Homo sapiens: one gene and its partners. The protein of the gene in region 3 interacts with the protein of the main gene of each other region in a biochemical or structural test. Each region holds a gene or a part of one and is shown on either strand. Other genes may lie near its edges.

Region 1 (7,022 bases), on a different chromosome or scaffold from region 3:
CACTTGTTGGCTGCCAACTTGGGCCCAGACTGTGGTCACAAACACACCCCTCTGGCTGAGAACAGGATCAGGACATTTCTGCAAACCCCTGACCTAGTAGAAGAAATGTTCTAGGAGGCAGGTTGGGGTTGCTGAGGCTCAGCTGAGCCCCCAACTTAGGCCAGGGAAGTAAGGCTCTAGCTGACACCTGGAGTTTGCTGGTAATGCTTGTTCTCCCAGGACATCCTCAGGGGATTCACTATCCACTGAGCTGGAAAAATATCCAGTTGCCTTGCCAAGTTCACATCCAAAGGACAGGCCATCCTTCCATGGCCCCTTGGAGGCGTCCTCAGTAATGGGATGTGAGTGGGGAAATGTTGAACAATGTGGTCAGTGATTCAACTCCGGGGAAACCTAGGCCCAGAGAGGGTCCCAGGAACCCTGGCTGCTCCAGACTGGTGCAACTGCCAGGCCCAGACCTTCTCCACTCCCCAAAGTCTCAAGGACCAGCCACAGCCCAGCATCCTCCTATCCTTCAGACCTCTCTGATCACTCTTGCCATTCAGAGATTCCTGACTCCAGTGCCTTCCACCACTCCTCCTCCCCTCTTTGTGCTATCTTGAGTGGAATGACCTCCTTCCATGAGATCTTGGGCCAGGAGAATAGGTCGAAAAAGACTTCAACTAAGGAAAAGTGGGGAAAAACATGAAGGCCACATTCTTCTTTCTCTTACCCAGGCCATAGGCAGGGTTCACCAAGGAATGATCTCGTCCTGTGAAACATCTCAGAGAATATAAGAGCAGGGGCCCCTCAGTCCTGGGATGATACACATGTTACTTCTCTACTGCATCTGTAGTAGACATTGCTAATCAATTCCAGCTCCTTTCTGCTGAGCCCAGACAAAGCCTCCCAATCCTTCCAAATATGGAACTCACAGAACCACCAGTGGAGCTGACGCTTACACTCTTTTTTTTTTTTTTCCTACAGAGATGAAATCTCACTGTGTTGCCCAAGCTGGTCTCGAACTCCTGGGCTCAAGTGATCTGCCCACCTAAGCCTCCCAAAGTGTTGGGATTACAGGCGTAAGCCACCACGCCTGCCTGGAGCTGCCACTCTAAATAAAAGCTATTGATCACCTCTGATCTAGCCTAACTTCAATAGGAAAACTGAGTCCCCTAGAAGGCAAGGGTCTTACCCAAGGCCAAACAGAGATTTATTGCAGAGCAGACAGGATTTCAGGCACCAGCTTTTTTTTTTTTTTTTTTTTTTTTTTTGAGATGGATTCTTGCTCTTGTCGCCCAGGCTGGAGTGCAGCGGCACAATCACGGCTCACTGCAACCTCCGCCTCCCGTGTTCAAGATTTTCCTACCTCAGCCTCCTGAGTAGCTGGGATTACAGGCACGCGCCACCATGGCTCAGCTAATTTTTGTATTTTTAGTAGAGACGGGGTTTCGCCATGTTGGCCAGGCTGGTCTCAAACTCCTGGCCTCAGGTGATCCACCCGCCTCAGCCTCCCAAAGTGCTGGGATTACAGGCGTGAGTCACAGCACCTAGCCACCGGCTTTTAAAGAGTTTCTGTAGGCCAGGCATGGTGGCTCACGTCTGTAATCCCAGCACTTTGGGAGGCCCAGGCAGGCAGATCACTGAGGCCGGGAGTTCGAGACCAGCCTGGCCAACATGGCAAAACCCTGTCTCTACTAAAAATACAAAAATTAACCAGGCCGTGGTGGTGCACACCTGTAATTCCAGCTACAGAACTGAGGCAGAGAATCGCTTGAACCTGGGAGAAGGAGGTTGCAGTAAGCTGAGATCGCACTACTGCACTCCAGCCTGGGCAACAGAGTGAGACCCTGCCTCAAGAAAAAAACACAGTTTGTGTAGAGGAGATAGTGTTTATGTTTTGTCTACCCTACCACATGGTGAGCTCCTTCAGGAGAGGCCCTGGGTGTAGTTTAGCTTCTGACCTTAATATACACAGCAGGCACACAGTAGATGTCCATGAATGTCTCTTGGCTTAGTGAGGAGGAATGCATGACATGAGTTAGAGGGAAGGCTTGAGTATTCACTCCTAAAGTCAGAAGATGCTTCAAGGTCACACATTTACAGATACTACCTTCTCAAAACGACATACATGGGAACCCAGATAGATACATTTTTAATCTAAAGATGAGGAGGTGGGCCGGGCGCGGTGGCTCACGCGTGTAATCCCAGCACTTTGGGAGGCCGGGGCGGGCAGATCACAAGGTCAGGAGATCGAGACCATCCTGGCTAACACGGTGAAACCACATCTCTACTAATAATACAAAAAATTAGCCAGGCGTGGTGGCGGGCACCTGTAGTCCCAGCTACTTGGGAGGCTGAGCAGGAGAATGGCGTGAACCCGGGAGGCGGAGCTTGCAGTGAGCCGAGATCCCGCCACTGCACTCCAACCTGGGTGACAGAGCAAGACTCTGTCTCAAAAATATAAATAAATAAAAATAAAAAATAAAGATGAGGAGGTGAGGGGACCTCCGTGTGAATGTGGATTTGAATTGTGTCTATAGCAGAAATTTTACCATAGACTAAACTTTCAAACAACAGAAGCTAAAAGAGCTTTCAAGTCAACTAAAATATGACATTTCGATGAATGTCAGTGGTTTCAAACCGCATTGCTGACTATAAATATCAAAGTAATGAGGCATGTGGGGAAAGTCTCTTATATCCATATCATTTATGTGGCATTCTATTATTTAACTTTGCCATTAAAATATGATTGATACACTTAAGCTTCTAAGGATCAACACTCTAGAGTCAGCTTTTTTTAAGTATCAAAAAAATGCATCTAGACTGGGCACTGTGGCCTGCAATCCCAGCACTTTGGGAGACTTAGGTGGGAGGATCCCTTAAGCCCAGGAGTTGGAGACCAGCCCAGGCAACATGGTGAAACCCTGTCTCTACAAAAAATTGGCTAGGTGTGGTGGCTCACGCCTGTAATCCCAGCACTTTGGGAGGCCGAGGCAGGCAGATCACGAGGTCAGGAGTTCGAGACCAGCCTGGCCAATATGGTGAAACCCTGTCTCTACTAAAAATACAAAAAAAAAATTAGCCAGGCGTGGTAGTGCGCACCTGTAGTCCCAGCTACTCGGAAGGCTAAGGCAGAAGAATCGCTTGAACCTGGAAGGCGGAGGATGCAGTGAGCCAAGATCGCGCCACTGCTCCAGCCTGGGCGACAGAGTAAGACTCCATCTCAAAAAAAAAAAAAAAAAAAAGCTAGGCGCAGGGGCTCACACCTGTAATCCCAGCACTTTTGGAGGCTGAGGCAGGTGGATCACAAGCTCAGGAGTTTGAGACCAGCCTGGCCAATATGGTGAAACCTCATCTCTACTAAAAATAAAAAAATTAGCCGGGCATGGTGGTGGGTGCCTGTAATCCCAGCTACTCAGGAGGCGGAGGCAGAAGAATTGCTTGAACCCGGGAGACGGAGGTTGCAGTGAGCCGAGATCATGCCACTGCACTCCAGCCTGGGCAACAGAGTGAGACTCCATCTCAGAAAAAAAAAAAAATTAACCAGGTGTGGTGGCATGCATCTGTAGTCCCAGCCACTCAGGAGGTTGAGGTGGGAGGATTGTTTGAGCCCCGGGGGGTGGAGGGTGCATTGAGCCAAGATCATACTACTGTACTCCAGCCTGGGTGATAGAGCAAGACCCTGTCTCGAAAAAAAAAAAAAACAAGAAAAAAAAATGCATCCATGGCATTTAAATAGATATACCTAAAATATAAAATAAAACTTTACATTTTATTTTCTTTATTTAAATTTTATTTTATTTTATATCTGGGTCAACCAAGGACCGAGAACCTATTTGCTTCTGTGGCCTCTTGGACACTCCTTTAGGGAAACCAAGGCAACCCACCAGGATTTGGGCCTGGGACTCAACTCAGCAGCTTCTCTGGCCGTGTTATTCTCCATCAGCCCCCGCCACCTCCCTGTGCCTGTTCTGGGCCATAAGCCAGAGACACATTCCTCAGGCCCCCACGGGGCTTCCAGAGCTGACAGAGTTTGAGGAAAGGGCTGAGCAAAGCAGAAACCTCTTGAGAGACATGGCACAAGATGGTCATGGGACAACCTCAGCAGGAGGCGTGTAACAACTGATGGGGAAACCGAGGCCCACAGAGGGCAAGGGTCCCACCCAAGACCACACTGTGAGGGAACAGTGGAGAAAGCCATTCAACCAAGGTTCCTCCACAAAACTCCTCTCTGATCCTGGCTGGAAGGATTTGATGTCCTACTCTATAAAAGCCAAGGCCTCTGGGCGTGGTGGCTCATGCCTGTAATCTCAGCACTTTGGGAGACTGAGGTGGGTGGATCACCTAAGGCCAGGAGTTCAAGACTAGCCTGGCCAACATGGCAAAACCCTGTCTCTACAAAAATATAAAAATTAGCTGGGCATGGTGACGCACACCTGTAATCCCAGCTACTTGGGAGGCTGAGGCAGGAGGATCACTTGAACCCAGGAGGCAGAGGTTGCGATGAACCAAGATCATGCCACTGTATTCCAGCCTGGACAACAGAGCAAGATTCCATCTCAAAAAAAAAATAAAGTAAAATAAAAGCCAAGGCTTCTCCCAAAGGAGGATGGGTCTTGGGGTTTTAAGGCCCAGGCACTAAAAGAACCTGAAGTCAAGAGCTCTCCAGGCCCCACAGGAAAGAATCTGACCTGCCCCTTCCCCAGTCCGCACCCCTCTCTCCCTGTGTCACTCAGGTGCTGGCACACTCTGCCATGTACATTTTTGCCCTAGTCGCAACAACCCAGAAAGGCAGGAGCTACATCCCTGTTTTACAAATGAGGAAACTAAGGATCAGGGAAATGAAGTGACTTGTCCAGGGCTACACAGCTAGTGACTGGAAGACAGAAAATGCAAATCAGGTCTGCTTGGCTCTATGCCAACTCTCCCTCCACCACCCCACACTGTCTTCAGGCAGGTCCCCAAATTCTGTTTCTGTTTTCAGTCCTGCCCACCTCCCAGCCCCCAGTGCTGGGATGGGGCCTTCTGAGGCCTGGGGGAGGTAGAGAAGCAGTGGAACACCTCCACCCAGCCCCTCTGAACCCTGGAACGTCAGTGCTTACCCTCCAGCACCACCTCCTTGCCTGTCTTCTTGAGGACCTGCACCGCCTCATCATGGGTAGCAGAGGACAAGTCTTCCCCATTCACAGACAGGATGGCATCCCCCACAAAAAGGGCCTCTGTCTGGTCAGCTGCCAATCCCTTGAAGATCTTGGAAATGAGAATAGGCATCTTGTTCTCCCGGCCGCCTGCACAGGTACAGAAGGAGGACAAGACTTAGGCAGATACTCCAACACTTGGGAGTCACATCAAGACACAATTATTTCTGAAGGCTTCCCTTGGTGCCTAGCCCAGTGCTGGAAAAGGCAATGGGAGAATAAAGGGAATCTGAGAAAAATCTTGGAAGTTTGGGACACTAGTAACACTAATAATAAATCATTTTTGATTAGGTCCGGTGGCTCATGCCTGTAATCCCAGCACCTTAGAAGGCTGAGGTGGGCAGGTCACCTGAGGTCAGGAGTTCAGGATCAGCCTGGGCAACATGGGAAAACCCCGCCTCTACTAAAAATACAAAAATTAGCCAGGCACCTGTGGTCTCAGCTACTAGGGAAGCTGAAGTAGGAGGATCACTTGAGCCCAGGAGGTCGAGGCTGCAGTGAGCTGAGATTGTGCCACTGCACTCCAGCTTGGGTGGCAGAAGGAGACCCTGTCTCAATAAATTAATTAATTAAATAAATCATTTTCAAAATTCATAATGCTATAGTTTGATCCCTGGATCTTTTGATTAAGTGCTTTGGGTGTTCACCAGTGTTTGTGCAACTTACAAAGTGCTTCAATCACTTTTTCTTAAATGTTTTCGATTTTCTCATGTAACCCATAAATATATATGCCTACTATGTACGCACAAAAATTAAAAATGAAAATAACCGGACAAAGTGGCTCACACCTGTAATCCCAACACTTTGGGAGGCCAAGGTGGTCGGATCACTTGAGACCAGTAGTTTGAGACCAGCCTGGCCAACATAGCGAAATCCTGCCTCTACTAAAAACACAAAAAAGGGCCAGGTGCGGTGGCTTATGCCTGTAATCCCAGCACTTTGGGAGGCCAAGGCTGCCAGGTGGATCACCTAAGGTCAGGAGTTCGAGACCAGCCTGGCCAACATAGTGAAACCCTGTCCCTACCAAAAATACAAAAAATTAACTGGGCGTGGTAGCGGATGCCTGTAATCCCAGCTACTCGGGAGGCTGAGGCAGGAGAATCACTTGGACCCAGGAGGCGGAGGTTGCAGTGAGCTGAGATCACGCCATTGCTCTCTAGCCTGGGCAACAAAAGTGAAACTCTGCTCAAAAAAGTAAATAAATACATAATAAAAAAATAAACAAATAAAAAAATATGGCTGGGCGTGGTGGCTCACGCCTGTAATCCCAGCACTTTGGGAGGCCAAGATGGGCAGATCACCTGAGGTTAGGGGTTCAAGACCAGCCTGGCCAACATGGCAAAACCCCATCTCTTCTAAAAGTACAAACATTAGCCGGGCATGGGGGCGCATGCCTGTAATCCCAGTTACTCGGGAGGCTGAGTCAGGAGAATTGCTTGAACCGGGAGGCTGAGGTTGCAATGAGCCAAGATTGCACCATTGCACTCCAGCCTGGGCAATAAGAGCGAAACTCCATCTCAAAAAATAAATAAATAAATAAATAAATACAAACACAAAAAATTAGCTGGGCCTGGTGGCACATGCCTGTAGTCCCAGCTACTCAGGAGGCTGAGGCAGCAGAATTGCTTGAACCCAGGAGGTGGAGGTTGCAGTGAGCCAAGATCACACCACTGCACTCCAGCATGGGCGACAGAACAAGACTCCATCTCAAAATAAAACAAAAATACAAAAATTAGCCAGGCATGGCGGTGTGTGCCTATAATTCCAGCTACTCAGGAGGCTGAGGCACGAGAACTGCTTGAACCCAGGAGGTGGAGATTGCAGTGAGCCGAGATCGCACCA
Region 2 (7,820 bases), on a different chromosome or scaffold from region 3:
AACCTACTCAAGGTCACACAGAAACCTACTCAAGACCTTGAATGCAGACCTGCCTGCCCCCAAAGCCTGTGCTCTGTCCACTGTGCTACACCGTCAGGATCTCGAAGAGCCGTAGAGGGCAGATGGAAATGAGGAAGTCTAACCTGGAGAAGGAAAGGCTGAAGAGAAACCAGCAGGGCATGCAGACCAAGACTTAAACCCTTTGTTTGCCACTAGAGGACCCATGGCGGGGTAGGACTTCCCAGAAATGGAATAAACTCCTACCAGTCCTGTGCAAACACTTGGTGGCCTGTTACACGTGCTAGTGAGATCCCCCAGGGTGGCCGGGGCCCAGGGACACCAGTCAGGGCTGCCAAGGATGGGAGGCAGAGTTGTGCAGCGGTTAACTTCGTGGGTACTGGAGGCAAACAGGTGGATCTGATCCTGGCTCCATGACTTTAGAACCTAGTGACCTTAGGCAAGTCACCTGACCTCTCAGAACAGCTGTTGGCTCTTCTGCAAAGAAGGGCAATACTGCCTGATTCAGTGTTGTTGTGTGGATCCAGTGGTACAGGGAGGTGGAGAGGTGTGGGAAGCGCTCCACACAGTGCCTGTGAGGAATTCAGCCCTCCATCCCAGCAGTCCTCATTACTGAGTTTTTAACCCAAATGCTACACGACTACCTCCTAGACCACCAGATCCTCCTCCCAAGGTCTTCTTCCCACAAGACCTCTGTACCCTAGTCCAGTCCTTTCTAAGCTCATCACAATGTCATTCTTGCAGCTCAGGACCTGGCTTCAAGAGACATGGACAGGGCTTGGTCAGGAGCTGCCCTTTGTGCAAAGGGCCTGGGGCAGTTGTTTCTTCTCACCTGGCACCACTGCCCACTCTGGCTGAGCTGGGCAGAAGCAGGCACTCAGCCCTTGCCCAAGGAATATACAAAACGAGGGAGTGGGGAGGGAGTGCAGGCCACAGGGAGCAGTTCCCCACCTCCTGAAGGGCTCTGAACTCAGAACATCCCCTAAGTGCCTATAAGCAAGGAGTCAACAGCTGCCCTCCACAGGGTGGCCAGATCCAGCAAACAAAAATACAGAACACCCAGTTAATTTCCAATATCAGATCATGAATAATTTGTTAATATGTCCCACATATTGCCTGAGACTTACTCATACTAAAAAACTGTTCGTTGTTGATCTGAAATTCAAATTCACCTGGATCTCCTGTACACGACCTGACAACCCTGACCCCTCAGGGCCTTCCAGCACTTTGTTGTCTCTGACTGGTAGCGGCTAACACCCTTGGAGACTGGGGTCTCGTTTGCCAAGTCAAGGGGAGGACCAGCCTTTTCATCCTGGGTACCGAAAGCCAGCATAGCTCATACCTGTGGATGCTCTTAGCCTGTCAGGCCCAAAAAGTTGCTCAAAAAAAGCCCCAAAGAGACTAAGCCCTCCCAAAGGACAGAAACAGCCAACGTTAAAGTCAGCCCTAAGCTGGTACCCCAGAAAGGACCTGGCCCTGGAGTCTGATCCCTATGGGTTCAAATCCTGATATTGCCACTTACTCCCCGTGGGACCTTGGCAATTTACCCAGTCTAAGCTGAAGTTTGCTCATCTGTAAAAAGATGACCATATCAGCTTTCTCATAAGGCTGCCTTGATTAAATAACCTGGCACACCACAGAAGCCCATAAATTAGAGCTCTGTCCCTCCCACTGCCCTCACCTGATCCTCTGTCAGCAATTATTTTAAGCAAATCCCTCATCAGAGAAAAGGCAGTTGGTGTTAACCCCACATTGCCTGGAATAGAGTGCATATTGATACCAACAAGCCTCGGCTGCTGTCACGTAAATTTCTTCCCAGCTGAACGTTCCATCCAAGCCCATTCCCTTGCTCCAGCCATGTCTCCCCACCACCTTTGACTGGAAGCTTCAGGAAGGTTTGCTGAAGCAAGTATGATTAAGAAGGGAAACATGCCTATAGCAAGTCATAGCACAGATGTTGTGTAATAATAAAGTGTATTAAGCCATTGTTTTGTAACCATCTATTTCTCAGGTTCCTTTAGTCCCAGACACCAACAGGGAGCTAAATGCTCTGTCATTCATGAGTAAGAGGACATTCCTGGATATTGCCTCAAAGGAGGCTGCACTAAGACCCAAAATGGCCGGTTTGGTCCAAGGTCCACACCTTCCTGACCAAAACTACAGCCCCTAGCCCCTCTAATGCAAATGGAGCCCAGACACGTGGGCGGCGGGGCTGGGCGGGGAGAAAAAGAACAGCCGCTGGCACCCAGACCCGGACTGAGCTCACGGCTCGGGAAATGAAGACACCACAGGAAGCCCTGCAGTGTTTTCCCCAGTGCACAAAGTTGGGGTTTTCTGCTTTTAAGTAATTTCTGTTGGAGTTCGCGCTTCTTGATTATGAAATAAGGGCGCTGGATGTGTAAACTTTATAAAACCAACTGCTTGGGAACATCTGATTTCCTTAACCCGACTTAGCAAACAAGGAGGCTCCTGAAACGGTGCTGGGACCCGGGGGGCAAGCCCAGTCCCTGACCCCGCGCGGGGGAGGTGAGCCGCCTACAAGCCCCTCCCGCGCACCTTCCTCCTCCTCCAGGGGAATTCTGGGCGTGCAGGCAACAGCAATGCTGGGACCGGCGCTGCCCGCTGGGAGGGTCTGAGTCCGGGAGGGGGCGGCCCTTGCCCTCCGCTGCCACCTCCCACGGCCCCTCAGTGTCGCCCTGCTGGCCTGTGCCTGGATCACTCTCCCTGCTGTGGCCTGCCTGCCCATCTCCTTCTTGCGTGGGGTCTGTACCTTCCCTTCCTCCCTACCATCCCTCTTTCCCCAAAACTCCGGTCCTTCCTCCCACCTTCCGGGAAAATGCAAATGTCCCACTTCCTCCCGCAAAGGGGACCCTCCCCCCAGCCCGTCGCCACCTTCAGGTTCACAGCAGGCAGCTCCATCCCGACTCAGGCCGAGGGCACCTGCGCCGCAGCCGCGGGGGGCTCCTAGGCTCCGAACTCGGGGAACAAACTTGCCCGGCCCCGCCCCGCCCCGCCCGTTGCGGCCACTCCAACCCCAGCGCAGCTCAAGACCACGTGAAACGGGCTGGAGCGGGTCACGTGACCGCCGCTTGGTTGCTAGGAGACGGCGTCGGCAGCTCGCGCCTTCAGCCAAGCTCCAGACTCCCGCCACCGCCCAGGCAGTACTTGGGGGCCGCTGGCGAAAGTTGGAGTTTCTGTCGCCCAGGGCGTATCCTGCCTGGCTAATATTCCAGGAAGCGGACTGTTCGGACTGCCTGCAGCCAGGACAACTGGGGGACCGTCCAGGCGCAAAGTGCTGATGTGGCAACAGCTTGTGTCTCATCCTTGGGGGCACCCTCTCTCCTTCCCACTTCCCTGTGTAAATGGGCTATTTAGGCTACCTACCTCATATGATCCTTATGAGGATTAAATGAGCTAACTGCTGTTGTTAAAGAAAACGTTATTGGGACTGTTGTTAAACCAGTACTGTTCAAGACTTGCTGTAGGGTTATTGCCATGGAGTGAGAGTTTGGGCTCAACACCGAATACAACAAGGACCAAGGAGGGATTTATAGCCAGAGCAGAATGAGGGAGCAGGAATGGAAGATTCCTAGGAGGAGACATCAAGGATGGGGGAGTTCTTGCTAACTTAGCAGGACTCTTGCTGAAACTGGTTTATTATGCAGGCTCAGGCCCAGCAAGGACAGGAAGACACAGAGGTCCAAGGCCGAGGCCTAGTCAAGATGAGGACTCAGAGGAGTCTAACTACGGTTTGTTCTAGGAGAGAACAGTGCCCGGCACTTAGTAAATGGGCAGGACACACAAGCTATTGTTATTACCAACACAAGATGAGGCTGGGCGCAGTGGCTCACCCCTGTTATCCCAGCACTTTGGGAGGCCAAGGAGGGTGGATCACCTGAACTCAGTAGTTCGAGACCAGCCTGGCCAACATGGTGAAACCCCGTCTCTACTAAAAATACCAAAATTAGCAGGGCATGGTGGTGTGCACCTGCAGTCCCAGCTACTCAGGAGGCTGAGGCACGAGAATTGCTTGAACCGGGGAGGCTGCAGTGAGCCGAGATCACGCCACTACACTCCAGCCTGGACGACAGGGTGAGACCTTGTCTGGGAAAAACAAACAAACAAAAAGCAACACCTGAGGAGCCAAATTGGTGGGAGCCCACTTTAATCAGCATACCAAAAGTTTTAGAAAACTCTAGCTGAAAAACCATAAGAAATTCCTCCCCCAATTGTACATGAGGAAAGAAAGGGCTGTCTCCTGCCTCACCTGGCACCTCCCTTAAAGATTGTTGACCACCACATCCCCCCACCGCAACAAGAACATTAATCCGCTCTACCTCCAGGTCCCTTCCTAACATCAACTTTCCTTTAGAGAACACCAGCTTTTGTTTAGTGTCACCTAGGTATGGAAACCTTCAGGGTACACCTGAGCACTTGGTCTTATTCCTAGGGTGGGGGAAACCAGGTGGGAACCTACAAAACTGCCTGGGTGAGTCCTTAGATAATACCAAGACCCATAGTCTCTCCAGATGCAAAGAAAGGGTTTCTCTGGATGGATGAGGAGAGTTTTGCAGGGCTGCAGGGCCCATAGGCCTAACTTAATGCCCTCTTAGGAGGCACAGATCCCCCCAGTCTAGGGGTAAATTAGAGACCAGCCAAATGGCTACATCCAGTTTGATTTAGGACTGGTTGCTATTATTATTATTAGTTCATTATTGGTAATTAATTATTGTTATTAGTAAAGTACTTAGAAGAGAGTAATTTCTCAGTAAGCAGTCAATATTAGAATATTATGTTATTATTATCTTTTTTTTTTTTGAGATGGAGTCTGGCTCTGTCACCCAGGCTGGAGTGCAGTGGCGCGATCTCAGCTCACTGCAACCTCCGTCTCCCGGGTTTAAGTGATTCTCCTGCCTCAGCCTCCTGAGTGGCTGAGACTACAGGTGGGTGCCAACATGCCCGGCTGATTTTTGTATTTTTAGTAGCGATAGGGTTTTGCCACGTTGGCCAGGCTGGTCTCAAACTCCTGACCTCAGGTGATCTGCCCGCCTCGGCCTCCCAAAGTGCTGGGATTTCAGGCGTGAGCCACAGTGCGCAGCCTGATCAATTTCCTTCTAAAAAATATTTCCCATACACTCCAGATTCTAGAGGGATTTAATCCAAGCCTTTAGGTATATAATAAAGTTGTGATCACTTTGTAAGGAGAAAATGAAAAACAGGCCGGGCACGGTGGCTCAAGCCTGTAATCCTAACACTTTGGGAGGCTGAGGCCGGTGGATCACTTGAGGTCAGGAGTTCGAGATCATTTTGGCCAACATGATGAAACCCCGTCTCTACTAAAAATACAAAAATTAGCCAGGCATGGGGGTGTGCACCTGTGGTCCCAGCTACTTGGGAGGCTGAGGCAGGAGAATTGCTTGAACCTGGGAGGTGGAGGTTGGAGTGAGCCGAGATCCTGCCACTGCACTCTAGCCTGGGCAACAGAGTGAGATTCCATGTCAAAAAAAAAACAAAAAAACCGCAAAACAACTCCTAGGATTAGAGCTGACATTTACTAAACTGACATTTACAGGACCCTGTAGGGGCGGAAGGGTGTGATACCTTTCCTCACCCATCATAAAGGTCACAGCTGACACTCCTGTAAAAAAAGACTGCTTAACAAGAGAAAAGCATACCAAGTTTAGTTAAGCAAAGCTTCATGTGACATGGGAGGCTTCAGAGATGAAGACTCAAAGGCCCTGGGAAATCTGTCCATTTTTGTGCTTAGTTTCAAGGAAGAATGAACAGCCCTGTAGCAATGCAATTGGATAAAAAGAAAATGAACAAGTCTTGTCCAGATTCTTCTTGGGCTCTCCATGCAGCATTCCTTCCTCCTGGGTATGAGGTAGAACCCCTCTGTAATGAGGTCTTTAAAGAGAGAAGGGAGAGAGCCACCTTTCTAGGTTTTATGGCTACTTTGGAGACACGGGTTCTAGTTTCTGTGACCCACCTTGGAGAAGGAGGATTTTTTTTTTTTTTTTTCTTGAGACAAGGTCTTGCTCTGTTACCCAGGCTGGAGTGCAATGGTGTGATCATGGCTCACTGCAGCCTCAACCTCCTGGGCTCAGGTGATCCTCCCACTTCAGCCTCCTGAATAGCTGGGATTAGAAGCACCTACCACCATGACTGGCTAATTTTTGTATTTTTTTTTATAGAGACAGGGCTTGCCATGTTGCCCAGGCCGGTCTCAAACTCCTGGGCTCAAGCGATCCACCTGCCTCGGCCTCCCAAAGTGCTGGGATTACAGACTTGAGTCACCTCATCCCCTGCCAAAGGAGGAATTCTTGTTCTGTGACTGCCTCACGGGAGAAGGAGGGGCTGGAGACAGGAGGTCAGGAGGGCGTCACAGAGACCTTGCTTTTGAGGCCTCCAGTCTTCTGTAGTTCATAGTACTTAGCATGCCAAAGCACCAGATATTGGGGTGACATTTTCTGAGCCCCAACAGTAGTTGTCGTGTGGCAGACAGTGTGAAAGGGCTTCATAGTGGGCCAGGCACGGTGGCTCACATCTATAATCCCAGCACTTTGGGAGGCCAAGGCGGGTGGAACACCCGAGGTCAGGAGTTCGAGAACGGCCTGGCCAACATGGTGAAACCCTGTCTCTATTAAAAATACAAAAATTAGCCGGGCATGATGGCACATGCCTATAATCCCAGCTACTCGGGAGGCTGAGGCATGAGAATCGCTTGAACCCAGGAGGTAGAGATTGCAGTGAGCCGAGATCCTGCCATTGCACTCTAGCCTGAGAGACTGAGAGACGGAGCGAGACCCTGTCTCAAAAAAAAAAAAAAAAAAAAAGAAAGTTCTTCATAGTAAATGCTCACAACAGAACTATGGCACGCGCTGTTCTTATTCCTGTTTACACTTAGGCAACTGAAATCAACAGAAGTGAAGCCGCTTGCTGCAGGCACAGCACTAATTGCTGCTGGAACTGCGGTGGGACCCAGGAAGCCTGGCTCCAGGACCCTGACGTGTAACCACACAGCAGAAAAATCCGGCCAGGGCTGAAATGAGAAGGATAGAGTGAAGCAAGTAGGAGAAGACAAGGATCGGAAGGCAGCACAAGGCTGGGCCTGTGGAACGTCCCTGTGGCTCAGACACTGACACTGTATTCATCTCCACCAGCTGGGGCCAGAGGCGGAGGGAGGAGAGCACGAGAACACCCAGCTGGCTGGGCGGGCTTGGCAGGCTGGTGGGGTTGGGGGGATGCGGGGAGGTGGGAAGCACGGAGAAACAAAAGAAAGTGAAACTGTCGGTATCCTCAAAGGAACCGGAGTTCCTGCCACGACCTATTCTTGGCTATGGAAGGACATAATAGACCCCCACGTGGCATTCCACAAGGCTTGGGGTCATGTATTGAGTGAGTACAGACACTCCCCAACTTACAATGGTCTGACATGATTTGTCTACTTTCCAACAGTGCGAAAGCGATCTGCGTTCAGTAGAAACCATATTTCCAGTCCCCAGTATAACCGTTCTGTTTTTCACTTGCAGTATAGTGTTCAATAAATTCCATAGGGTTTTCAGCACTTTATTATGAAATAGGCTTGTTTTTCATGATTTTGCACAACTGTAGGCTAATGTAAGTGTTCTGAGCATGTTTAAAGTAGGCTAGACTAAGCTATGATGTTCAGTAGGTTAGGTGTATTAAATGCATTTTATTTTCTTTTTTTGAGACAGGGCCCTCTAGGTGCTCTGTCACCCAGACTGGAGTACAGTGGTGCAACCTTGGCTCACTGCAGCCTCCAACTCCTGGGCTCAAGT
Region 3 (7,190 bases):
GTTGAAAGACTGGTTCTGGTTCAAGAGGAAATCCTGATAAAAATGGATATAAAACCCCACTAAGAAACACAAGCATGTTTCAAAGAGAAATCTGAATCCCCAAATCATTATTCACAATCTATTATTAATTACAATTTGAGATATATCACCAGTTACTTCTAGGTTGTAAATATGTCTCACTAATGACAATCTTGTACAAACATATCAGAAAAACAATGGGCAATTCCTGAAAGTCACTGGACGATAAAACATAGTTACATTTGGTTTCAGAAGATTCAGAAAAGATTAGGGGAAATTTTATTATTTTATTAAAACCACTTAAAAATAATTCTGGTGAGCCTCAAAGCAAGTAGCCATGTTGATTACATGCATTTTGCTCTCACGTTTAAGACACAAAGGTCTCCATTTCTCTAAGAGAACTGCTTTTCCGGCAAGACATACTCTCTCTTTTCCCTTGGAGCCAAGTAATTGGAACCCTAAACACACTGCGGAGCTTCTGTTGGAACCGGTTTCCAACAAAACAATACAGAAACGGATTAACGCAGCTGTTGGTGAATCCCAAGAGGATGGCAAAAGGAAGTGCCAGGTCAATGACTGCTATAACTTCGCAGCTATTAATGACACCCATCCAGGCCAGAGCATCCAGGAAGGTCAGAACATGGAAGGGAAGCCAGCAAATGATGAAGGCCAGAACAACAGCAGCTGCCATCTTCAGGACTTGGTCACGGGTTATCCTGTTCTTCCCATAGCTATTCGTCTTCAGTAAGTGTTTTCTAATTCCAAAATAGCATGTTGCTATGAATATTAAAGGGATAATAAAACCAAGGATATTTTTCATTAAGGCAATCCCAGCTGACCATTGGGCATATTTCTCAGGTGGGAAAGCCATAATGCAAGCATTCACTCCTAAGTATTCAATGGTTCTGACGTCTCGAAAATAAAATGTTGGCAATGAGGACAAACAGGCCATACACCAAACAAGGGGAACTATATAAGATGCTTGCCAGGGATTTCTTCTTTGAGACAGAAAGGGGTAGATGACAGATTGGTACCTATCAACACTCATGCAGGTGATAAAAAAAATGCTTGCAAACATGTTCAGGGTAAGAAAAGAACCAAAAACTTTGCACATCACAGGTCCAAAGAGCCAGTCATATCTATAAGAATAATAGGTTGCCCATAGAGGAAGAGTAGCCAAAAGGAGTAAATCAGCCACAGCGAGGTTGAAGATGTATATGCTAGAAACCTTTTTAGGACCCTTTTGACAACAAAACAGTGTAACCACGACAATATTGACCAGAAATCCAATTACAAATATAATGTAGTAAAGAATAGGAATTGCATCTAAATGCTTATCTGATGGTTTCTGTGAACAGTTCAAGGTAGACTCATTGTTGCCAGAGATGTTCACAAGCCCGAAGTGAAGACCGCTGGTAATGTTTTTGCTAGTAGTGGCAAGGGTGGAGTTGCCCTTCATATTGAAATGTCAGCAGCTCCTAGTTCTTATGCCTTCTGTGGAGAAAAAACATAGAACTCTTAGAACACATACAGAGCTGAGGACATCCTTGAATCATTAGCATTTTGAATGTTTGTCAAAAGCAAAAAAAAAGTGAGTGATTATAGAAAACATTAAGAAACAGAGCCATGGCTTGTAAAACAAGAATTCATTTTACCTCTTGAAAAAGGAGAAATAATTTTCCTGATAGTAGAAAAAAGACATTTCAGAGATTCAAAGTTCTGAATAAAACTACCTTTTGCCCATCTTTTCTATGATGTTTTTGAAAGATTTAAAGAAAATTAATATTTCAAAAGATTAGTCAGGGCAGGAAATGTGTGAAACAAATAAGAAACCCAGAGGTAAGAAAAGTTAATCTTTCAAAAAACACTTGAGCATATATCTCTGTTTGTATACTTTCTAGAAACCACACTGCTGCTTGCTATTGCATAGAGAAATGCTCTATTTAAGTAACTAATTACATACAAATCACTACAGCTGTGGAAAATATAAGTAACATAAGCAATGGAAAAAATAAGTATATAAAAAACTAAAAGAGAATATGCCAAAGGAACATATTGTGATGGGGAATCATGGTTTGTCTTTAATAATTAAAAATAATTCCTTTAGTTTTACTTTTCTATTGTTTTCACAATAATAATATAGTTAAGAAGAAGTTATGAAATATATTTATATTTCTAAGTCTTCTCCTTTTAATAGAGAATATTAGTTTTAGATATAGATATCTAATTTTGGTCTATTTAATATCTAAACAATCCATTTTCAATTAAATCAGATAAAGAAAAAAACAGCCAAACCTATGTTAGGTTCAAGTAGAAGTAGTTTAGATTGCTCAGTGAAATGAGAAATGAACATCAATGATTAATCATGATATAGTCTTATCATTTTTCTTTTTCTCTCTTTTCGGTTTAACCGAACTGAATAGCCGTTGCTCTCAAACGTTACAGTGTTGAGGTTTTTGTGATTTTTTTCACTAGAAGCATTATTTTAAAACCAAAAAAAAAAACACATTAGCTAAAGATAAGCATACAAAGGAAACACTATTTACTTTAGATAGTTTCAAAATACATGCAAATAAGCTACCCAATTAAAAGTGTAATATCTAAAGAACCTCCTAATAAAGAGCAAAACTTTTATTTTGCTCTAAAGATTTTTCTTTTGACCTAACAAATTAACATAAAAGAATCAATAATAAATTCCACTTGAAGACTTACTGGTTGTTGAAGTTTAAAGCAGTTATCATAAATCAGCTTGCTTAGTGCCTAAACACACTCCTGTAAGAGAAACAGCAGCTAAATAATTCAGGAGTTTTGCAAAATACAGTGTTAAAACACAGGAAAAACAGAAGTTCATCCATAAAAAATATTTTCATTTAATGTATGTTCTACTTTCCAAGTAAATTATATATAAATTGTTCATACTTACCTTCAAAATTCAGGCTGCAGAATGCTTTGAATTCTGTGCTTACTCGTTCTCTCAGACGCTGGGACGTAATAGCACCAGATCTCTGGTTTCCTTCTTATATGTTTGGTCTGTCCACTGGGAGCCTTCAACCTACATAATTCTAGGGCTGACTTATGAACCCTTGCCAGCTTTCCAGAGAGGTTTTTTTTTGTCTGCAAAACATTAATCTGAAATTCTCACTGTCTCCAATCATAACAGCTCATTCAAATAAATCTCAAACAAAAAAAATGAAGTTTCCACAAATGTGCTAGAGAATTTTGAAGTCAGTGGCTTACTTGGTAGGAGAAAAATATAGTAATTATTTACAGAATTTTCTCTTCCTTTTTTCCTGATATTGGCATTCTAATAGAAATTAGTGAGTAGAGACTAGGAAATTTATTATAGTAGCAAAGTCTTTGTTCATCAGCTTTCACAACCTTCATTACTTTCTGAAATTTTTACCCCTGTTTATTAAAGAATGGTAGGAATTTTACTTGAAGTCTACCACTTCTAAAATTTCTCCCTTGCTTTGCGCAGTTTTTGTTGGCTTGTTGCTGGAGGGTTGGAGATTGCAGGAATATAATTTTTACACGACCAAAAAGAGGTTTAGTCTCCTTTCATAGGTCTCTGTCATATTTGTGGTTTAAATACAAAGCACATAAAGTGAAGAGGGATTCGCTAGCTATTTCAACCTAGATCACTGTTGCTGCTGTCTCTTGTGGCAGTGGGGGCAATAAACTACACAACCAATCCAGCAGAAGCAAGAGTGACAAAATGAAGAAAGATAAGAACAGGTGATGGTAGTGATAATACTAGCTGACAATAAATGTTATGTGCCGAACACTGTGATGAGTTATTTATCATCAATAATTTAATAGAGAGGCAATATAGCACACTGGTTAGTAAATAGCCTCTGGGATCCAACTACCTGGCTTTACAAACCCAGCTCTACCACTTACTAATTCTGACCTTGGCCAAGTTACTTTACTTCTTCATGTCTCAGTTTCTCATCTGAGAAAGGAGAATGATATAAATTACCTACATCGTAGAGTAGGAATTTTAAATAAGCTAATGGAAAATTAAATGAGCTAATATGTTTAAAGTGCCTAAAATCATGCCTAGCATATGGTAGGTGCTATTACAAGCTATTCATATTAGCCCCCACTTTACAAATCAGGAAACTAGGACTCATAGAGTTTAATAACTTTTCTGAGATCATACAGCTATTAAATGAAGACACTTGCATTTAAATCAAAGGAAACTAATATCAGAACTCACGCTGTTTAGCCTCTATACCACAAGAGGAAGCACTAGATGGTCCCTTAGTCTCACTCTTTGTCTTGGCAAAAAGGAAACGTGGCATTTACAGAAAATCACTGATGACCATTCATAATCTATCATAAAAGCATCAAAGAAGGGGAAAAGAATTGGAAGAATTGTTATGTGGGGAAACGTATTTTTCTTAATTGTATTGCCCAAATGGAGACCACAGGAAGGAGAAACTTGTGACTAGATGGCTTTCTATAGTTAGTACAGAGAACCAGAGAACCTAGAGCACATTTTAAATGGGCAAAAAGATTCAAGTTATTTCTGTGGATCATATTTTTCAGATAAGCAGCAAGAATGCACCTGTCCATGCTGCAGGCCACAGGTAAAGAATGAGGGCAGGCTCTGAGGAAGTAGCTGGGCACCTAAGTATGGAGTTCAGCAGAACAAGGAAGGAGAAGTCAGTGTTGATGACAGAAGACAAAATTGCAAATGGCATGAGACAAATCACATGGCTTTTGATATCTGTCTGTTTCTCCATTAATATTAAAGTCAATACTGTAGCACACAGGCAGATGAGATCAGTGAGAAGTCATCGTTATGTGAAAAATACAGTAGGATTCAAAGGTTTGCATAGGCCATCATAAAGTTTGTTTGGTAAACAGTTTGAACATTGTCAAAATGCCCCTAATATATGTATGCACCATTTTACTAAATCTCAAAATATTTGTTTCCTATGCTCTGGACAGATTCAGTTGAGGCTGAGGCTCTGTTAAAATGATGGAAAACTTATGTTTCAGAAACAAATGAGGGGGCACATATGTTTATCAGCAGGAAAGCTGAGATGGAAACTGTTTTCACTCATTGTTTAAACCTGGTTTCTCCCTCCATTTCAAATGTTTGTTTTTGCCACATAAAGGGGAAGTTTCCAGGCCAGGGCCTCCCGAGTGGTCACAATGGGTCAGATTCTCACCCTGCTCTTTTTCTTGTACCCTCTTAGGCCCCTTGCAAAGAAACAGCCAGGAGGTGAGCTATAAAATTATGAGAACAAACTACAGGCTTGTCTCCGGAAGACCTAGCCTTGAACACCCACAAGGAACAGGGGACCTTGTCTAGAGCTTTTGTCCTTCATTACAGTAAGTTCTGACATAAATAAAGTTTAAAGAGGTACATATTTCCCAGAAGATTAAAGGGCCATTTACTCTGCGTCTTCATAATCTTAGGAGTAATTTTTTTCACAAGTCAAAGAAAAATTTTGTAACTGCAGAGAATTAACAAAAAGTTTATAAAAAGAATAGCAATAATATTGACACCACTTGAAGAAATACTGTATATTATTGATTCAGCAAAGAACTCCCAGTTAAGCCAACAATGTAAATACACTTGAGAGTCAAATAAGTGTCAGTCCTGGGAAGCAGTACAACACAAAAAGTTCATTCTCCTGGGAGTAGGGAATAATTTTTCTGCTGGTAGACTTACTTAAAAAGTTTCAGGCCATTTGAATAAATTATGCAGCTCTGCAGGACAAGTGTAGCTGAGCTAGCAGAATTAAATAGTAAATCACATTAAATTAATTTTTTTCTAATGAATACCTGTTGTTTATTGTGAGATTACTTAACAGTAAATTTTAAAGGACTAAGCTAAAAAAGTAAATGTTCTTGAGAGAAATTCTTCCTCTGCTAGAAGGTTACAGAGTTCAGAACAAATTTTATTTGCCGCCTCACCTCCACCCACACACACAGATGAAACTTCAAAGGAGAAAAGAAATACATAAATGCAAAAATGCGTAAAAATTCTAGACATAGTGCCCTGGTTATAGAGGTAAAGATTAGAGGTACAGATTACGGAATGATTTTAATATATATGGGTCTTCCTTTTTAATCTAGGTCTCTCAGAGTCATTTTAACTTTCCCCAACCCCAGCCACCACACTGAGTGCCAATATCATTGCCACTTCTCTCAACTTCAACACACACACACACACACACACACACACCATTCATACCCATGTACCCACGTACATACTTTATACCAACTTTTCTTTAATTCACTTACCCATAGAGTAGCCTTGCTTTAATTGTCACTGGACTTTTCCTAACCTGGGGGTCTCTAAAAGGAGGGTAGTTAAGAAGATTGCCCATTATTGATGAATCTTTGCATATTATTTTTGTGCCTGTCTGTGAAATGTCACAATTAAAGCAAATGGAAAAAAAAATAAGGTCTTTTATTCAGAAATAACAATCAGATTGGCCATTTTGTAGAAACCAGCTTAAAATTCAGTGAAATGCCCAACATGAGTGATTATTTTCATCAAACTACCTCTTTGTCTACGCATCACATGAAAAGTGACACAGAGGACTATTAAGTAAGTTAAGGTGAAACTGATGTAGTGAGATGAATGGATGTCAGACTCAGTACATTCTTGAGACCAGCTGCTTCCAGCTGAATCTGGTCCCAAGAACATAAGGAGAAGGGAGAGTTCTAATTTCCCTTTGCCCCAAAGACAGCTTCAGGCCTGAGCACCATGTTCAGACTAGAATCTTGCAAAAGGCACCCTAGTTCTATCCTCAAATGCTATATAACCCAACTGGTGGAAAAAAATTTTAAATGAAAATTATCTATATTTTTGTTTACATTCCAAATATCAGCTAAATGATTTGACATTTCTCCCACTGATATGACTAAATTAAATAGCTTGACTAAATTATCCAAAATTGCCAATTGACTAAATTGGCCAAACCAACAAGCTGTCTTGGAAATATTTAAACACCACTCTTAGGCGATGGGGATGTTTTGGGGGGATGTTTTGGGGAGATGTTGTCAGGTTAGAACTCTCATAGGGCAGTGGATCAACAAATTGTTAAGCTAGAGTTTGGTCCTTGAGCTTTAGGTCTAGATATTGAACTTTCTCAGAATACCCAGGCTCTCAGTGATGGCTCATGTCAATCAAATTATCTCAAAACTGA
Region 4 (7,022 bases), on a different chromosome or scaffold from region 3:
AGGAATTCTGTGCGACTCTCTCTGGACCTGGCTTTTCTTGCTGAGCTCACTACATCTGGGGTCCCCAGTGTGACTCAACAACTTTCTCCCTTGCCCAGCTTCCCTCATCCCACGGGCTGGGTGTCCTCTTTTCCAGGTGTGGGACCCCTCTAGAGAAAGACATCCACAACCTACCCTCGGAACCTCAGCCCATTCATGGATTCCTTCTCCTGGGACTGAAGTAGGGCTACGTAGGGACTGTGGTTTGTTTGGTAGGATATTAGGTATTTAGTTGTGATGCTTTTCCATTTTGGAAGCAGCGCAGCAGGAATCTTGCTCACGATGGTGCTGGACTAGGGTGGGGTATTGGATTTGTTTTGTGTTCTCAGAAGGCTGAGGGTAGGAGGGACCCTGAAGTCAGAGGCAGCTATCCCACTAGGGAACCGGAGAAGGATGGAGACACCGCCAGGTCCCTGAGGGGCTGGGACTCCCCTGGGACTTGGAGGACAGGAGTCAAGGGGAGGCTGGGAACAAAGAGCTGGAGGAGGGGCAGGGGTCCTGAGGCTCTCAGAGACCACCGGGGGACACCCAGATGTGGCAAAGCAGAGGAAAGCAGCAGGTGGGCTGAGTGGTGGGAAGAGAAACAGAGCCCTTCTCCTCCCCAGTCAGCCGCCAGCAAACTAGAGCTGCCATTTTGAGCAGCTAGTGACCCAGCCCAGACCCATCAGCAGGGGAGCGCCCTTCTGGCTCACCTCCTCCCTCCCTTCATCTCCTGGGGGTCTTGGTGGAGGAAGGCCGGCACAGACCGTGTGGCTCTGACCAGAGGACCTCTCACCTGCTTTCTAGCCTCCATTTCTGGACACATAAAAGAAGGTCTGGGTGAAGGAAGGAGAAAAATGTGCCACCATTTGAGTGAACAAAATACCCAACCCCATCCCAGAAAATCAGGCAAACCTCCAGCCGGGAGAGGAGGGTGGAGGCCCCCAGAGGAGGGGCAGTGGCTTGGCATCCAGGTCATCTGGAGCCCAGAGAGAATCCAAGGCCAAAAAGCTACCAGGTTTCCTTTTCCTTCTGTTTTTTTTTTTCTTTTCCTTTTTTATTTGTCATAGTCCTTCCTTCATCTCACTCCAACTCTTCTTTCCTGGCTCCCCGCTCGGCTCCACCGCCGCGGGCCTCCCTTCACACATAGCACAGGTAGAGGTACGTCTTCTCTATCCTCCAGTCGGGCGGGATCTCCTCGGGCTTGTGGCCCTTCATGTGCTTCTGCATGGAGGAGAGGCTGGGGCAGTACTCTGTGCAGATGGTGCACTGGTAGGGCGAGGCGCCGTTGTGCGTTCTCAGGTGCTTGATCATGGCCGAGTAGTCCCGGGAGCGCTGGTGGCAGAGCTTACACTCAAAGGGCTTCTCACCTGAGGGCGGAGGGACAGGGCAGGAGAAAGTGAGGACAGACAGAAGGCGGTGAGGGCACCATGTCACCCTCAGGCGTGCCAGGGAAGCTGGGTTCCTCCAGCTGGGCTTGCTCCAACAGAACTTTCTGGGACAATGAAGGCACCACCCAAGACGGCAGCCACCAGTCACACATGGCTATGAATGAGGCTGGTGCGACTGCAGCTCTACAGTTTTCTAATTTTATTTCATTGTAACTAATTTAAATAGCTACATGTAGCTAGTTGACTACTGGATTGCCCAGCTCCTTGTCTTACTATTCTTAACTCTCCCAAGGCCACAGTCTTTTCCCTTTCTAATTAAGAAAATGGGTGTCTAGAAAGAGAAAGGCCCCAAAGTCCTCAGGAATGGCTCTTCAAGCCACAGTTCCGTCCAGAGAGCAGGTGGATCGAGACCTTTCAGGGCTACAGATGGTGGGGAGCAGGGGTGGGGGGAAATTGAGGGAACCCAGTCCTTCAAATATGCTGCACCTGGGGACACCTATCCTGCTAAAGCTCTCTTTTTTTTTTTTTTTTTTGAGACGGAGTCTCGCTGTGTCGCCCAGGCCAGACTGCGGACTGCAGTGGCGCAATCTCGGCTCACTGCAAGCTCCGCTTCCCGGGTTCACGCCATTCTCCTGCCTCAGCCTCCCGAGTAGCTGGGACTACAGGCGCCTGCCACCGCGCCCGGCTAATTTTTTGTATTTTTAGTAGAGACGGGGTTTCACCTTGTTAGCCAGGATGGTCTCGATCTCCTGACCTCAAGATCCACCCGCCTCGGCCTCCCAAAGTGCTGGGATTACAGGCGTGAGCCACCGCGCCCGGCCTTTTTTTTTTTTTTTTTTTTTTTTTTGAGATGGAGTCTCACTCTGTTACCCAGGCTGGAATGCAGTGGTGCAATCTCAGCTCACTGCAACCTCTGCCTCCCGGGTTCAAGTGATTGTCCTGCCTCAGCCTCCCAAGTAGCTGGGATCACAGGTGCCGCCACCATGCCCGGCTAATTTTTGTATTTTTAGTACAGACAGGGTTTCACCATGTTGGCCGGGCTGGACTTGAACTCCTGACTTCAAGTGATCTGCCTGCCTCGGCCTCCCAAAGTCCTGGGATTATAGGCATGAGCTCCCCCACCCGGCCTATCCTGCTAAAACCGCTAAGACCTTGCCCTGGACCCTGCCTCCCTCCTGAGGCTGGAATTGGGGGTGGGGTGGGATGGGAGGGATAAAGAACCTGGGAGTGCACAGCCACACCCTAGCGTTCTATACCCCAACTTTCCTTCCATAGAGTCCCCTAGAGCTGAGCAGAGGATGTAAGGGAACCTTGTTTCAATACAGTAATTAACTGGCCAGCCATCTCGCTATCAATACTCCCCCGCGCACAGGCCCCAGCAAATAATGAAGTAATGAACAGCCAAAGTGATCTAACTATCGACCAGCTATTTACAATAGTCACTGCCAATACAGTTAATGATCCACCTGCCAGGTCACATCCCTGACAAGGGGCTAAGGAAACCCCAGGGCTCTGGGAAATCCTCTGGGCCACTATAGTTGTCATCAACGGACACCCAACCCTCTCCTTGTGGGCTCAAACTGGGACACGAAAAACGAGCTCTGACAACACATAGCTCTGCTTACTGCTCCTTCTGTCCACCCTTCCCCTCCAAGGGCAACGTACTCTCCTCTAAGCCAGCAGGACCTGCCTGAAGCCACCTCTCCCCCTTCCTCTGGACAGGACAGCTGTCTCCCCTGATCAGAGGGGGCGTCTTTGTTTTCCAGCTTCCACCACCTCTCACCCTTCTGTAAATCAACCTTCCCCACAACCAGCAGTGTGCTGGTGGTAAATGTTTCATGACTGGCTTTCCAAAAAGCCCTGGTTTGTAGCATCTGCTGATTGCTATGATGTGAATACTCCTACAGTGGCCAATTTTAAGCAACTAAGGTGGTGTCACTGAACTTGAAGTTGTGAAGAAATGTGAAAAATTAGCTTTCACAAGCAAGCTCCAGGACTTCACTGCCCCCAACTTGGGAAACTGTGGAAGACCCTTCACTTGTTTTGTCTTTTGACCTCAGGGAAAACAGTGGCCCACATTTCTTTTTCCAATACAAAAAATAATGTGGATGGGCACGGTGGCTCACGCCTGTAATCCCAGCACTTTGGAGGCCGAGGCGGGTGAATCACTTGAGGTCAGGAGTTCGAGACCAGCCTGACCAACATGGCAAAACCCTGTCTCTACTAAAAAAAATACAAAATTAGCTGGGCGTGGTGGCACACACCTGTAATCCCAGGTAATTGGGAGGCTGAGGCAGGAGAATCGCTTGAACCCAGGAGGCAGAGATTGCAGTGAACTGAGATCGTGCCACTGCACTCCGGCCTGGCCAATAAGAGCGAAACTCCGTCTAAAAAAAAAAAATGTGAAGGCACTCTGAAGTGGTAAAACATCATATGCATATAGGGATTATTAAATATATCTGCTCTTCTAATCTCAGAACCAAACACAATCTAACTTTACAACTTCCCAACCTTCATAACAACCTAATTCAATGTATCCTAATTCTTACTCTAACCCTTGAGTAACATGAAATTACCCTAACCTTCACTTTCAGCTAATTGGACCAACTTACCCCTAATTCAGGACTCATATACAGACATCATTTTGCATGTCACCTCTGAACTACTGGTATAGCTGCCTGGAGGGCTGATGGGGGCTCACTGGAAAGTGTGCTGGGATTGATTAGTAATGTCTGCCTTGGCCTTGACTGATGGCCCTCAGGCCACCTTGACTGGGGTGTGGTGGTCCTCAGGCCACCATACCAGCTCTTAATAGAACCTCTTCTACTCTTTGATTCAGCCTGGGATCATCCTCACTTAGGCTTCTCTAGGAGACTATCTGCTTCCCACCTCCGCCCAGGTCCCAGAGCCAGCTCAGGCCCCTCCCTGGCCTTCGGTACCTGTGTGCACCCTATAGTGCGTCTCCAGCTGATGCTTGAGGCTGAACTTCTTGCCACAGCCATTGCACTCGTAGGGTTTCTCACCCGTGTGGATGCGTTTGTGGCTCTTGAGTGTGCTCTCATCCCGGAAGCAGCTGCCACAGAACTCACACTCGTAGGGGTGGTCGCCTGTGGAGACAAGGGGCTGGATCAGGCCTTTGCCTCTCCCTGCCCCCTCTTCAGGGGACAGTAGGGCACATTCTGTGCATGAGAAGGATGCGACGGCCTGTATTCACCACCTCCAAAGACAACTTAAGGATCCACGGCCACACCTCCATTGAATAAACAAGCAATACCTGTCTTCACACATGACCATACTTTACTGTGGCCCCATGATCATCTGTGGGGCAAGGGCCAGTCCTGGGAAAGAGAGCCCATTTGGTTCAGGGATGGACAGCAGTCCCCAGAAAGCAAGCCCCCTTGTGGATACATGAGACCTCACCATCTTGCTTCTCAGATGACCTCTTCTCCCCTTCCTTTAGGTTAAGGGTGAAAGTCACTCCAGCCTGACTCCCCAACCTTCAAAGAAATCTCTCCAATTTGAGGAACTTCACATTGTCCCCCAAACACCTTCTACAGTCCCCAATTTCCTTCCTCCACAGTCTTACATAGCTGTTTCCTCTGCTCGATTTCTTCTTTTCTCCCTGGTGAACTCCTAATCATCCTTCAAAGCCCAGCTCATATGATACCCCCGCGTGGACGCTTCCCTTTAGTTCCCCAGGCAGAATGAATCACACTTTCTTCTGTGTCCCCAAAGAGAAGAAATGCCCAGAATTTTGTTCTGTTATTAGTGTGGTATCATTTTTATGCCACTTTCGCATTAAAATGGGCTACATTTCCTGAGCACTCAGATGTGTGATGTGATCGCATCAGATGATCATGGCAACAAACTTAAAGAAAGATATTAGTCTCATTTTACAGTTGAGAAAAAAATGAGATGCTTCCACATCATCCCTAAGGTGAAACGGCAAGTAAGGAGCTGAGTTGGGATTCAGGTTTGGGTCTGGCTCTAGAGTCAGGGTACCATATACTTGTCAGCTTGCTGACACACTATGCTGTATCTACTGGCTTGCCCACCATACCTCCAGCATGGAAGCACCACCAGGATAAGAAGCAAGCCTCACCCATCCTTGTAGCCTCAGTGTATCGCACAGGGAGGATCCAGAACAGACCCAGGAAATGGTGGGTCTATGAAACTTGGAGAGAACTGCCTTTTCTTTTTTGAGGATCCCACTCTTAAATCTCCAGAGCATGAGAGGTTGGGGTGTGGAGAATAACCATCTTGCCTTTCATATCCAAAGTGGGGGGCTTGGGGGATGAAAGGTGAGGACTCCAGCTACTTATTTATTACAGGAGTGAAGGCGCAGACAATAAAGATAGATTGATCACCCCAGACTTTGTTCATGAATATTTAAATATCGCTGATTCGTCTTGTCACTGTAATTACAATTTCTCTGGGCTGCATCTCCAACAACCACAGTTTATGGTAAAGAATGGCCCACTGTATTTCACTTGTCCCTCTGCAGATGTGCGGGGCTGCCAACCGTGTAATGTCCTCTGCATTTCATACATTTTCTTCAGCTGCTGAAGGTTTAAGTCATCCACAATGACCTACGTTTTTGCATTATCCCCATGTCAAACTGCGCTCGTGCCTGGGCATAAATTGTCCTTCTCGTTATAGACTCGCATGCCTGTGCCTTCACTTCCTTTTTAAAATGATATTTTACTCTCTCCTGTCTCTCCCCTCCTCGGGCCACTAACCAAAGCTCCCCCCTCCCAAAGTTAGGCCCCTGTACCCACATAAATTCTCATCTGTTCTGATGGCTCTGAGGGGTTTTTAGGGCTCTGAGGGGAGCGGATGCTGGGGTCTGATCAGTGACTTTCTCATGGGTGGAAGATTTGCAAGAAGCACCCATGCCATGAGAGGGGCACTTCCATCAGGGAATCAGATGAGAGAAGCTCAAAGAGTGGCATCGTGCCTTGACACCAGTTCACCCCAATCTATGGGGTGTTGCACTGGCTCAGAGGCTCGGCCAGCGAGTCCCTCACCTGCAGATCTGGGGATGGGCCAAGGCCCAGGGTTCTCAGTTGGGGAAATTGCTACCTGCCCATCCTCACTGCCAGAGCCATGCGGACTGCCTGGCCCCCAGCCCCATCAAACTCAAGGGAGTGGAGGCCTGTGCAGACCCTGGTACTAATTAGTTGTGTGTCTAACACAGTAAGGGCCAGTCTGTGTGTGCACCCGAACCCACTCTCTCCGTGTGTCTGCACTCACAGCCCTGTCTGGTCTGACATCCAACTCCCCCTCCTTACTGAATCGGCAACGATTACGACTTTAATCAAAGATTCAGTATCCTCATTAAGGTATAAATAAATAAATAAAGCCAAGGCCACGTGAGACTTCAGCTGGAGCCGGTAATTAAAACGTACATCGGCAGCCACCCAGCCGGGTGGGGGTGAAGGCGGCGGTGGGGGGGAAGGGGGCGGCTGCCTGTGCCTTTCCCCTCCAGAGGGGTCCCTAACAATTTAAAAAACAAAGGGTTAAGACAGAGGAGTTTGTTTGATCCGATTTTTAGGAATTTAATTATGAAGTGGAGCACATGTTAAATGAGTTTAAATAGGAAATTCTTGAGTC

The links.
Region 1: the proteins of AGTR2 (region 3) and SNTA1 interact in a test that uses a peptide from one of them, tested with the Homo sapiens proteins (one study listed by BioGRID).
Region 2: the proteins of AGTR2 (region 3) and AGTRAP form a complex in vitro, tested with the Homo sapiens proteins (one study listed by BioGRID).
Region 4: the proteins of AGTR2 (region 3) and ZBTB16 form a complex in vitro, tested with the Homo sapiens proteins (one study listed by BioGRID).

What each region holds. Positions count from the first base shown.
Region 1 is NC_000020.11:33,433,757-33,440,778, forward strand, and holds part of SNTA1 (alpha-1-syntrophin), read right to left. Parts: intron 5,271-7,022; coding exon 5,085-5,270; intron 1-5,084. UniProt on the Homo sapiens protein: Adapter protein that binds to and probably organizes the subcellular localization of a variety of membrane proteins. May link various receptors to the actin cytoskeleton and the extracellular matrix via the dystrophin glycoprotein complex.
Region 2 is NC_000001.11:11,731,326-11,739,145, reverse strand, and holds the start of AGTRAP (type-1 angiotensin II receptor-associated protein), read right to left. Parts: upstream 3,011-7,820; 5' UTR 2,938-3,010; coding exon 2,911-2,937; intron 1-2,910. UniProt on the Homo sapiens protein: Appears to be a negative regulator of type-1 angiotensin II receptor-mediated signaling by regulating receptor internalization as well as mechanism of receptor desensitization such as phosphorylation.
Region 3 is NC_000023.11:116,166,568-116,173,757, reverse strand, and holds the start of AGTR2 (type-2 angiotensin II receptor), read right to left. Parts: upstream 3,015-7,190; 5' UTR 2,942-3,014; intron 2,791-2,941; 5' UTR 2,731-2,790; intron 1,513-2,730; 5' UTR 1,478-1,512; coding exon 386-1,477; 3' UTR 1-385. UniProt on the Homo sapiens protein: Receptor for angiotensin II, a vasoconstricting peptide. Signals primarily via a non-canonical G-protein- and beta-arrestin independent pathways. Cooperates with MTUS1 to inhibit ERK2 activation and cell proliferation.
Region 4 is NC_000011.10:114,244,692-114,251,713, reverse strand, and holds part of ZBTB16 (zinc finger and BTB domain-containing protein 16), read right to left. Parts: intron 4,517-7,022; coding exon 4,349-4,516; intron 1,389-4,348; coding exon 1,159-1,388; 3' UTR 1-1,158. UniProt on the Homo sapiens protein: Acts as a transcriptional repressor. Transcriptional repression may be mediated through recruitment of histone deacetylases to target promoters. May play a role in myeloid maturation and in the development and/or maintenance of other differentiated tissues.